Regions from separate parts of the Homo sapiens genome. Here region 2 is linked to region 1. Evidence: fine-mapped expression QTL. Tissue or cell type: whole blood. Region 1 holds a variant in brackets; the other region holds the start of a gene. All regions are shown on one strand. Distances are from middle to middle.

Region 1 (5,315 bases):
AGGTGACGTCACAAATGGTGACCGAGATGCCACTACCCACCCACTATAATGGGTATAATAAAAACTCAAACAATAGGTGTCAGTGAGGATATAAAGAAATTGGAACCTGTATACATTGCTGGTGGGATTTTATTTTATTTTATTTGTGAGACAAGGTCTCACTCTGTCGCCCAGGTTGGAGTGCAATGGTGCCATCATAGCTCACTGCAGCCTTGAACTCCTGGGCTGAAGCAATTCTCTTGCCTCAGCATCTTGAGTAGCTGGGACTACAAGTGTGCACCACCACGCCTGGCCATATATGTGTGTGTGTGTGTGTGTGTGTGTGTGTATGTATTGATTACTGTATATATAAATATATATGTATTTTATTTATCTATCTATCTATATATTGTTTTGTTTTGTTTTGTAGAGACCAGGTCTTGCTTTGTTGCCCAGGCTGGTCTTGAACTTCTGAGCTCAAGCAATCCTCCTGCCTCAGCCTCCCAAAGTTCTGGGATTAAAGGCATAAGCCACCATGCCCAGCTGCTGCTGGGATTTCAAAATGCTGCTGTCACTTTGCAAAACAGTTTGGTAGCTCTTCAAAATGTTAAAATTGGAGTTACCATGTGGCCCAGCAATTGCACTCCTAGCTGCAAAAAAAAAAAAAAAAAAAAAAGAAAGAAATCCTATATCCACAAAAACCTTGTACCTGAATAACTTATAGCAACATTATTCATAATAACTAAAAAGTAGAAACATGAATGTTCATCAACTGATAAATGGAAAATCAAGTGCAGTATATCTGTACAAAGAAATACTATTCAGTGTTAAAATGAAGTACTGACACATGCCACAACATGGATGAACCTTGAAAACATGCTAAGTGAACAAAGCCAGATGCAAAAGGACACACGTGTATGATTCCATTTACATGAAATGTTCAGTATAGGCAAGAAAATCTATAGATACAGAAAAGTGTATTCATGGTTGCCAAGCACTGCGGCAGGTGGGTTGAAACGGGGACTAATTGCTAATAGGTATGGAGATTTTTTAGGGAGTGATGAAAATCTTCTCAAATTAATTATGGGCTGGGCTTGGTAGCTCAGGCCTGTAATCCCAGCACTTTGAGAGGCCAAGGCAGGCAGATCATCTGAGGTCAAGAGTTCGAGGGCCAGGTGCGGTGGCTCACGCCTGTAACCCCAGCACTTTGGGAGGCTGAGACAGGCGGATCACGAGGTCAGGAGATCGAGACTATCCTGGTTAACACGGTGAAACCCCGTCTCTACTAAAAATACAAAAAATTATCTGGACGTGGTGGCAGGCACCTGTAGTCCCAGCTACTTGGGAGGCTGAGGCAGGAGAAAGGCGTGAACCCGGGAGGCGGAGCTTGCAGTGAGCAGAGATCGCGCCACTGCACTCCAGCCTGGGCGACAGAGCGAGATTCCGTCTCAAAAAAAAAAAAAGAGTTCGAGACCAGTCTGGCCAACATGGCGAAACACCATCTCTACCAAAAAAAAAAAAAAAAAAAAATTAGCTGGGCATGGTGGTGTGCGCCTGTAGTCCTAGCTACTCAGGAGGCTGAGTCAGGAGAATCACTTGAACCCGGGAGGTGGCAGCTGCAGTGAGTCAAGATCACACCACTGCACTCCAGACTGGGCAACAATAAGACTCTATCTTAAAAAAATATGTATATGATGACGGTTGCATAAATCTGAATGTACTAAAAAGTCACTGAATTTTACACTTTAAAGGGGTAAATTCTATGGTTTGTGAATTATATCTCAATGAAGATGTTCAAAAAATGGTGACCTGGCCGAGTGGCAGTGGACTTGCCCAGCCCCAGCTCTAGCTACACTTGTCCCCTTGCCTTCCAGATAATCAGCTTCTGATAACTGTAGAGAAAAGTATGGGCAGAAAGGAGAAAGTAAGCCAAGAGGGGAGCTGGAAGTCAGGACCTACTGCCTTGGAAAGCCATCGTGCTGTGAGGACTCTTCATCATTCCTCAAGGTACTTCTGCTTCCTTCCCTTACCTCCCACTACCTCCTAGGCACTCCACTGAACCTGCCCACCTCCACTCCTGCCATCTCTGCCCACCTCTACTCCAAGCAT[C/T]TGGGCATCCACACTCAGTTCACGTCAGATCTGGGTGTAATGAGTTTGAAGTCAGTTTTCAAAGTTGTATTAATAGAATCTTTCTTTGGCCACCCAGGTTTTGGAGAATTTGGTCATCCTTCCACTTTATGGACTGTGAATTATCTTGTGACCAATGATTTCCTCTTCTTCCCACCTAGGTGTTACTTCACTTACCAACAATTCCCCAATTCCCCAAAGTGGAAGGAAGGAGACAAACTTGTACCTTTGACTCATTTTTCAGAAACTATGGTGTAAAGGTCTCTGGGAAACTGGGTGAAACTAAAGGGCCATATGATATTGTTTTCATTTATTTTTATTTTTTAACCTGGAAAATGTGAAATGTGTAGATGCAATGCCATATGATGTTGAGGAATTATTTGTTTTAAATTATCTTTCCTCCTTTATGTCCTGGGCAAATATTAATTAGTTGGTTATTTGTAACCATCAGAAAGGATCCTACTGATGGCATGACTCCTTTGCCAAACTTCTTATCAAAAATAAGGACTCTGGAACGTTATGAAAATAAGAGGTCTATGGCCATACCACCCTGAAAACACGCAATCTTGTCTGATCTTGGAAGCTAAGCAGGGTTGTGCCTGGTTAGTATTTGGGTGGGCTATAGGCTTCTGGCATCCCATTCCCTCTTTCCCTAAAGAAAGAAAGAAAGAAAGAAAGAAAGAAAGAAAGAAAGAAAGAAAGAAAGAAAGAAAGAAAGGAAGGAAGGAAGGAAGGAAGGAAGGAAGGAAGGAAGGAAGGAAGGAAGGAAGGAAGGAAAGAAAGAAAGAAAGAATAAAATGAGGGGACCACATCCTCTCCCACCTACTTCAGAGGGCTGGTAAGACTAGGGTCCTCCCCACCTGAGCACCAGCTTGGGGTGAAAGGGAGGAAGAGGAATCCTTGACAGAAGCATTATCTGTCCCTTTAACCCTCCTTTCAGAAGTGGACTCTCTAAAGAGTCCTCTTGTCCTCTGACTTAACTTTACCTCATCCAGCTGTATACATGCAGTGAAACACACTTTAACTGTCCCAGATACTTGGGAGGCTGAGGCAGGAGGATCGCTTGAGCACAGGAGGTGGAGGCTACGGTGAGCCATGATCATGGCACTACATTCCAGCCTTGATGCATAGAGAAAGACCCTGTCTCAAACCAAAACCAAAACCAAACCAAACAACAACAACAACAACAACAAAAACCCACACATACACTTTAGGGCAGACCTCTGTAGTAGGATGATGTATTTGTGTACAGTAGCTAAAACTTGCAAGTAGCTGCTTACCCAGTCAGCCAGGCGGCCATGGGTTTTGTTTGTTTTTGTTTTTGTTTGTTGTTGTTGTTGTTGTTGAGACGGAGTTTTGCTCTTGTTGCCCAGGCTGGAGTGCAATGGCGCCATCTCAGCTCACCAAAACCTCCAACTCCTGGGTTCAAGCCATTCTTCTGCCTCAGCCTCCCGAGTAGCTGGGATTACAGGCATGCGCAACCATGCCCAGCTAATTTTGTATTTTTAGTAGACGCGGGTTTCTCTATGTTGGTCAGACTGGTCTTGAACTCCTGACCTCAGGTGATCCACCCACCTTGGCCTCCCAAAGTTCTGGGAATACAGGTGTGAGGCACTGTGCCCAGCCATAGCCATGGTTTTTAATGACTAAGAAGAGAAAGGGAGGCTGAGGAGGGTGGATCACCTGAGGTCAGGAGTTCGAGACCAGCCTGGCCAACATGATGAAACTCCGTCTCTACCAAAAACACAAAAATTAGCCAGGTGTGGTGGCGTGTGCCTATAATCCCAGCTACTCGGGAGGCTGAGGCAGGAGAATCACTTGAACCCAGGAGGCGGAGGTTGCGGTGAGTTGAGATTGTGCCATTGTACTCCAGCCTGGGCAACAGAGTGAGACTCCGTCTCAAAAAAGAAAAAAAAAGTTTATTTTTTCTAACTTTCTTATTTTCTTGGGTTAAACTAGAGCTCTTAAATTAACCTGCCTGCCCATCAGCTTTCCAGACTAGGAGTGATTATATAACTTACAATTCTTACTGGGGACCTGAAAGCCCCAACATGCTCTGAAGCCTGGAAAATTAGGTGGAAGAAGGAAAAGATAGAACCTTGGCACAGAGAGAAAAAAAAAGTGGTTAGCATCTGTGCTGGACTAAAAAATATATAAGTATGAATGTTAGATTTTGTGAGTTACATCAGGGACACATGTGCATATCTGCATTTGATGTGTGTGCAATTCTGTGGTCAAGAGGGTGTCTGTGAGTGAGAAGACACATCCAAAGATTTAATGAGAAGAATAATGATTTTGGATCCATCTGCCTTGCTCTCAGTGCCAAGAGGAATGGTAGGCACAGGATTCACTGCAGGGGTAGATGGTGAAAGCAGTCAGAAAGTGATGGGTTGTTAGGGGTACCCCTGAATAATGTCTCCCCACCTAGTTAGCTCTTGCTTGAAATTTAGCAGTTAGCTAACTGTGTCTCTAAGGATTTTAAATTTTTCTTCATACTTTTCTTCATTTCTACATTTTCAAGACATACCCACGACTGGGTAATTTATAAAGGAAAAGAGGTTTAATGGACTCACAATTCCACATAGCTGGGGAGGCCTCACAATCATGGTGGAAGGTGAAGGAGGAGCAAAGGCACATCTTACAAGGCGATAGGCAAGGAGTGCTGAGGGTATTGCAATTATAATCAAAAGGTTATTAATGTAAAATAATATATTTTAGTACTTGACAGTAGTTCAAGTAAAAAGTCTTGAGGGAGGTTCCTGATTCAATTTAGACCATGAGGCCTTGTGTTAAGGGTGTGGATTGGGTATTGCGGATCCTGATCTAGAACATGTGCTGTGATGTGTACTAGTTCTATAATCCTCGGCAAGGCTCTTGACATCTGTGGTGCTTAAACCTGAGTGCAAGAATCACCCAACTGCAGATTGTAGGATCCTCTCCTAGAGAGTCTTATTCAGCAGGTCTAGAGTGGACTTTGGAATCTGCATTTTAATAAGCAGCTCAGGTGACTCCAAAGCAAATGCTATATAGACCACTCTTTGAAACACACTATTCCATATTCTGCAAATCTCCATTTTTAAAAACTTTATTGTGAAAAAATTTCAAATATATGCAGGCATAACTCATTCACCTGCATCTCGCTTTATTGCACTTTGCAGATTACATTTTTACAAATAGAAGGTTTGTGGCAACCTGGTGTTGGGCAAGTC
Region 2 (5,000 bases), 110 kb before region 1:
GGCCTAGAGGGAACTTGGTGGGGGGGCCAGGGTATGCTTAACCACAGGGGAAGTTGTCCACACATACCCACAGACCATGTACATGCCATACTTCAGGCATGTACATGCCATCCCAGTGTCTGGGATGGGGCTGCCCACCTTTGGGGCCAAACAGGTAGCCGTAGCAGGGGACGTGGCAGTAGGGGACTCCATCATGCTGAGACACAGAGAGAAAGAGAGCTGTCTCAGCCTGGTTCTCTTCCCATCTCCAGCCTCCTCCCAACATAACCACTCATTCCTGCCCTGCTCACCTCAGCATGACTCCCAGCAGTCAGGGTCTTGTGGCAACGCTGGCACCTCAGACACGGTCGGTGCCAATTTCTGCCTAATGACATCACCTTCTCAGCTGGTGGTGGAAAGAAGTGGTAATGCTTCCATTCTAGGGGTAGAGTAGGGAGACCTACCTGCCTTGGATCACCTCCCTCCCCCTTGCTGCCCACCCTGTATCCCCCTCCCCAAGTTTTCCACTGTTACTTACCAAAATAGACGGGCTCCCCACAGCCAGGGCACAGCGAGGTCTCCCCAGTGAATGTCTTCATATGGGGAGGGCCTTTAAAGGGGAAGAGGCCCTGGCTATGTCTGAGGTGGAGATGCCCACCAGCACCTGCCTGCATATGGTGCTGTCCTCTTTCAAAAGCCATGCTCATTCCAGAGTGCCCCACCCAGGCGCCCAAGAGTCTGCCTTCTACAGGCCCAGAGCTGAGCCCCCTCTGACTCCACCTCCTGCCCCATCCCTATGTGTATTAGGGACTATCTGCTTCCTTCTCCTGCTTCCTTTTCATCCTCCCAGGGGCTCACGTACCCACCATCCCAACCCTGTTAGCAACTCAATCCTCAGGAAACTTGAGCTGATATAGGAGCTGGCCACAGCACGGGTGTCAGGTGTTGGGGAGCACAGTGTCATTGCCTACTTCAGGGAATGGAGGGAAAGAACAGGGACCAGAGGAGAAAAGTTGAAGAATATGAGAGGCTGGCCTTATCCCAATGACTCCTCTCCTTTAGATCATTCCTTCCATGGCCCTGGCCTGGGACAGACCTAAGTTCCTGGCCAGCTTTGCCTCTGACTAGCTTTGTGGATGGACAGTCATTTGCCCTGTCTGGATCTCACTTTCCTCACCTGTAACACACGAGGAGAGGGGATAATGCCATCTGCCCAATTAACCTCTTTTTTTTTTTTTTTTTTTTTTTTTGAGATGGAGTCTCGCTCTGTTGCCCAGGCTGGAGTGCAATGGCATGACCTTGACTCACTGCAACCTCCGCCTCCTGGGTTCAAATGATTCTCCTGCCTCAGCCTCCCAAGTAGCTGGGATTACAGGCATGAGCCACCACACCTGGCTAATTTTTGTATTTTTAGTAGAGATGGGATTTCACCATGCTGGCCAGGCTGGTCTCGAACTCCTGACCTCATGATCCACCTGCCTCGGCCTCCCAACAATTTACCTCTTAACTCAGCAGCTCACATGAGGGAATAGAAAGAAAGAAAGAAAAAAAAAGCGGGGAGTAGATAGAGAAGACTTTGCCAAGAATGAAGTTGTGAGAATGTGAAGCAGAGGGCTGGATAGGAGACTGCCACCTGGCCCAACCTCCGCTCCAGCTTGGGGAAGGGTCGGGAGGAGGACTGGGAGGAGCTGAGCCCAGCCTTACTTTTCTTGCCTTGGGGGAGGCCAGTCCTTGGCCTGGGAGGGCTGAAGCTGCTGGGGCTGAGAGGAGTGGTGCAGCCAGGGCTGGGAGTGGGGGGATTGTACAAGTAGGAGCCTACACCACCAATGTTCACCCCTGAAGAGAGAATAGGGGAGGTCAGGCTTGAGCCCCCAGCTCCCAGCCACAAGGAGGGTTCTGCTGACCCATGGCCCCTTAAGGCTGGTACTTACCCCTGGGTCCAAAGAGAGCCCCATAGCATGGCTTGTGGCAGTATGGCCTCCCATTGTGCTGGGCACAAGCAGAGGGAAGTGGGTTACTCAAGGCCAGCGGGAGCCATGCCCCACAGGCCTTCACCCCAGACAGGCTGCCAGGTGTGTCTGTCCACTGGCTGAGTCTGGTGGGCCTGGGAGGGGTGGGGGATGGGCTGGCATGCCAGCATTTCCACTGTGGTCAAGGGAGGAAGAGCAAGAGCAGCTCAGAAGGTGACGCTGCTTCCCACTCACCCTGATCCCCAAAACCATGGGATCCACAGTCACGACCCAGGTTCCCAAATTCCTGGCTGGTGTGGGGTCCACCAGGTGGGCGGCCTTGGGGTTGGCTACTGAGGTTCCCTTTGGCAGGCCTCCAGTGCTGAAGTTGGGGGCTGGTGCCTGGGGGGTGGGAGGCAGTGATGTAAACAGGGCAGTGCTCCCTGGCCAGGTCTTACCTCTGCATGCCCGCCAGGGGACAGGATGCTGTGGCAGCGCTCACATTTCAGGCAGAAGCGGTGCCAGTTCTTGCCCAGGGAGCTCACCTTCTCAGCTGTGGAGGACAAAGTGGAACCGAGCTGCGAGGAGCCTGTCCAAGCATAGGGCCCCTCCTTTCCCTCTTCGGCCCTCTAGGGAATTAGGTTGGCCTGCCCTGCTTCCTGGAGATGAGTGTCTCCAGGAGGCCAGCTCCATCCCGCTCCGGTTTCACACTCCCCACAGAGCTCTCAGAGGAAGGGAGAAGACCCGAGTGGGAGCGGGTGGTGCGGAGACTACCAGCCGCTGCAGGTGAAAAGGGTGTCTGGGACTACACTGTGGCTAGCCCTCCGCGTCCTCAGGGAATCCAGCGGCTCCCATTCGCCCCATCTTCTCCCCCTCCGCAGCCCGGGCCTCACCGAAGAAAACAGGTTGCTGGCAACGCGGACAGGTCCAGCTCATAGCTCCGCTCCAGGCAGCGCACGCGGCACACAGTAGGTACGCCGCTGCGGCTCAGTTCCGCCCCCTCCGCAGGCTCCACCCACGGCTCAGCTTTGAGCCTCCCTGGGCGGAATCCGCGGTTCCTCGGCGCTCATTGGTTATCAGAAATTTAGAACCACTCCACTTGGGAGACAAAGGGCTATTTCGCTGTTACTTCAAAGAGCATTAAAGCCTCGGTCAGACCCACGGGGAGGAGAGAGGATCTTGAAGCCGTGGACTCCAGACTAGGAAGGCACATGTGTAACGAAGACACCTGGACAGGGAGCTCTACTAGTTTCTGGAGCGGTAAGGACAGGAAAAATGTCCACAGTGCAGACATCATTAAAACACTACTCTCTCCAAAGCGAGGGAGTAGGCATTCTTTGAAATGCAAAATTCCACCTTGGCAGTATAGCAAGTGGTTGAAAGCAACAAAATCTGGAGCCCGTCTCTGGTACCCTACTCTTTGACTTCAGGCAAATTACTGAACCTCCCTCTCTGCCTCCATTTTCTCATCTGTGCAATGAGTATGATAACAGTCTCTGCCTCATAGGATTGTTATGAGAGTTAAATAGGTTAATACATGTAGAGTGCCCAAACAGCGCCTGGCATGTAAACGCTGTAACAGCTATAGCTATCACTATGATGGATCCCTTAATGAACTCAAGACTCGGTTTGGAAGCCTCAGAACATGGTCTGTATACAATCGTTTACTCCTAAAGCTGTAGGGTGGCTGGACACAGTGGCTGACACCTGTAATCCCAGCACTTTGGGAGGCCAAGGTGGGCGGATCGCCTGAGGTCAGGAGTCCAAGACCAGCCTGGCCATCGAGGCGAAACTGCGTCTCTACTAAAAATACAAAAATTAGCTGGGCGTGGTGGCGCATGCCTGTAATCTCAGCTACTCGGGAGGCTGAGGCAGGAGAATCGCATGAACCGGGAGGTGTGGAGGTTGCAGTGAGCCGAGATCGCACCACTGTACTCCAGCCTGGGGGACAAGAGCGAGACTCCATCTCAAAATAAATAAATAAATAAAAATGAAAACCAACTACACATTTCTAATCTGGTTTGCTTTAAAATTTTTAAATATTTGTGTTTTTAATGAATGTATTTATTTGAGGCAGGGTCTCTGTTGCCCAGGCTGGAATGTAGTGGTGCATCGTAGCTCACTGCAGTCTCCACCTGCCCGGCTCAAGCGATCCTCTCACTTTAGCCTCTGGAGTAGCTGGGACTACAGACACATGCCACCACACCTGGCTAATTTTTGTATTTTTTGTAGAGATGGGGTTTTGCCATGTTGCCCAGGCTGGTCTCGAATTTCTGGGCTCAAGCGATCCACCTGCCTGGGCCTCCCTAAGTGCTGGGATTACAGGTATATGCCCCCATGCCCAGATAAATATTTGTTAAAAGTAGTTCAATAGACTCTCTGGCACCATTAAAGAGATCCTGGGGACTGCCCAGTCTGTGGGCTGTAATGTTGATGGCCGCCACCCTCATGACATCATAGATGATATCAACAGTGGTTCTGTGGAATGCCCAGCCAGTTAAGCACAAAGGAAAATATTTCAATAAAGGATCATTTGACAACTGGTGGAAAAAAAAAAAAGTAGTTCAATAGTGCTTCAAAGGATATTTCAAGAAATTTAAATCCAGAGAATGGAAGAAATATTTGCAAATCTGATAAGGATCTAGTAACCAGATTATATAAATAACTTATAATGCAATAACAAAAAGACAACCCAATTAAAAGTGAGCAAAGTATTTGAATAGATGTTTTTCTAGAGATACACAAATGGCCAATAAGCACATGAAGAGATGCTGAATATCAATAGTCATTAGGGAAATGCAAATTAGGACCACAATGAGATACCATTTTATACTGACTAGGATGGTTATAATTAAAGAGACAAATATTGGCAAGAATGTGGCAAAATTGGATCCCTCATACATTGTTGGTGGCAACATAAAATGGTGTGGCCACATTGGACAACAGTCTGGCAGTTCCTCAAAAAGTTAAACATAGAGTTACCATATGACTCAGCAATTCCACTTCCAGGTTTATACCCAGGTATATAAGAGAAATGAAAACATATGTCTATACAAAAACTTGTACATGAAT

The links. PIP is the estimated chance that this variant, and not a neighbour inherited with it, causes the effect.
Region 2: CRIP3 starts here. The variant in region 1 is fine-mapped to the expression of CRIP3 in whole blood (TOPMed, PIP above 0.99).

Annotation. Positions count from the first base shown.
Region 1 is chr6:43,415,456-43,420,770 of GRCh38, forward strand. LOC105375065 (a long non-coding RNA gene) reads left to right here. Exons shown (of 6, transcript XR_007059585.1): 5 at 1,854-1,986. Among named protein-coding and RNA genes, the nearest start is that of ABCC10, 9.4 kb to the right of the region's middle. The variant C/T (reference allele first, on the strand shown) is at 2,089.
Region 2 is chr6:43,305,929-43,310,928 of GRCh38, forward strand. CRIP3 (cysteine rich protein 3) reads right to left here and starts at 2,898. Exons shown (of 8, transcript NM_206922.3): 1 at 2,822-2,898; 2 at 2,387-2,481; 3 at 1,911-1,968; 4 at 1,684-1,815; 5 at 518-589; 6 at 291-385; 7 at 139-196. The coding sequence starts at 2,864. It also overlaps the pseudogene RPL12P47. RefSeq lists an enhancer at 1,558-2,415.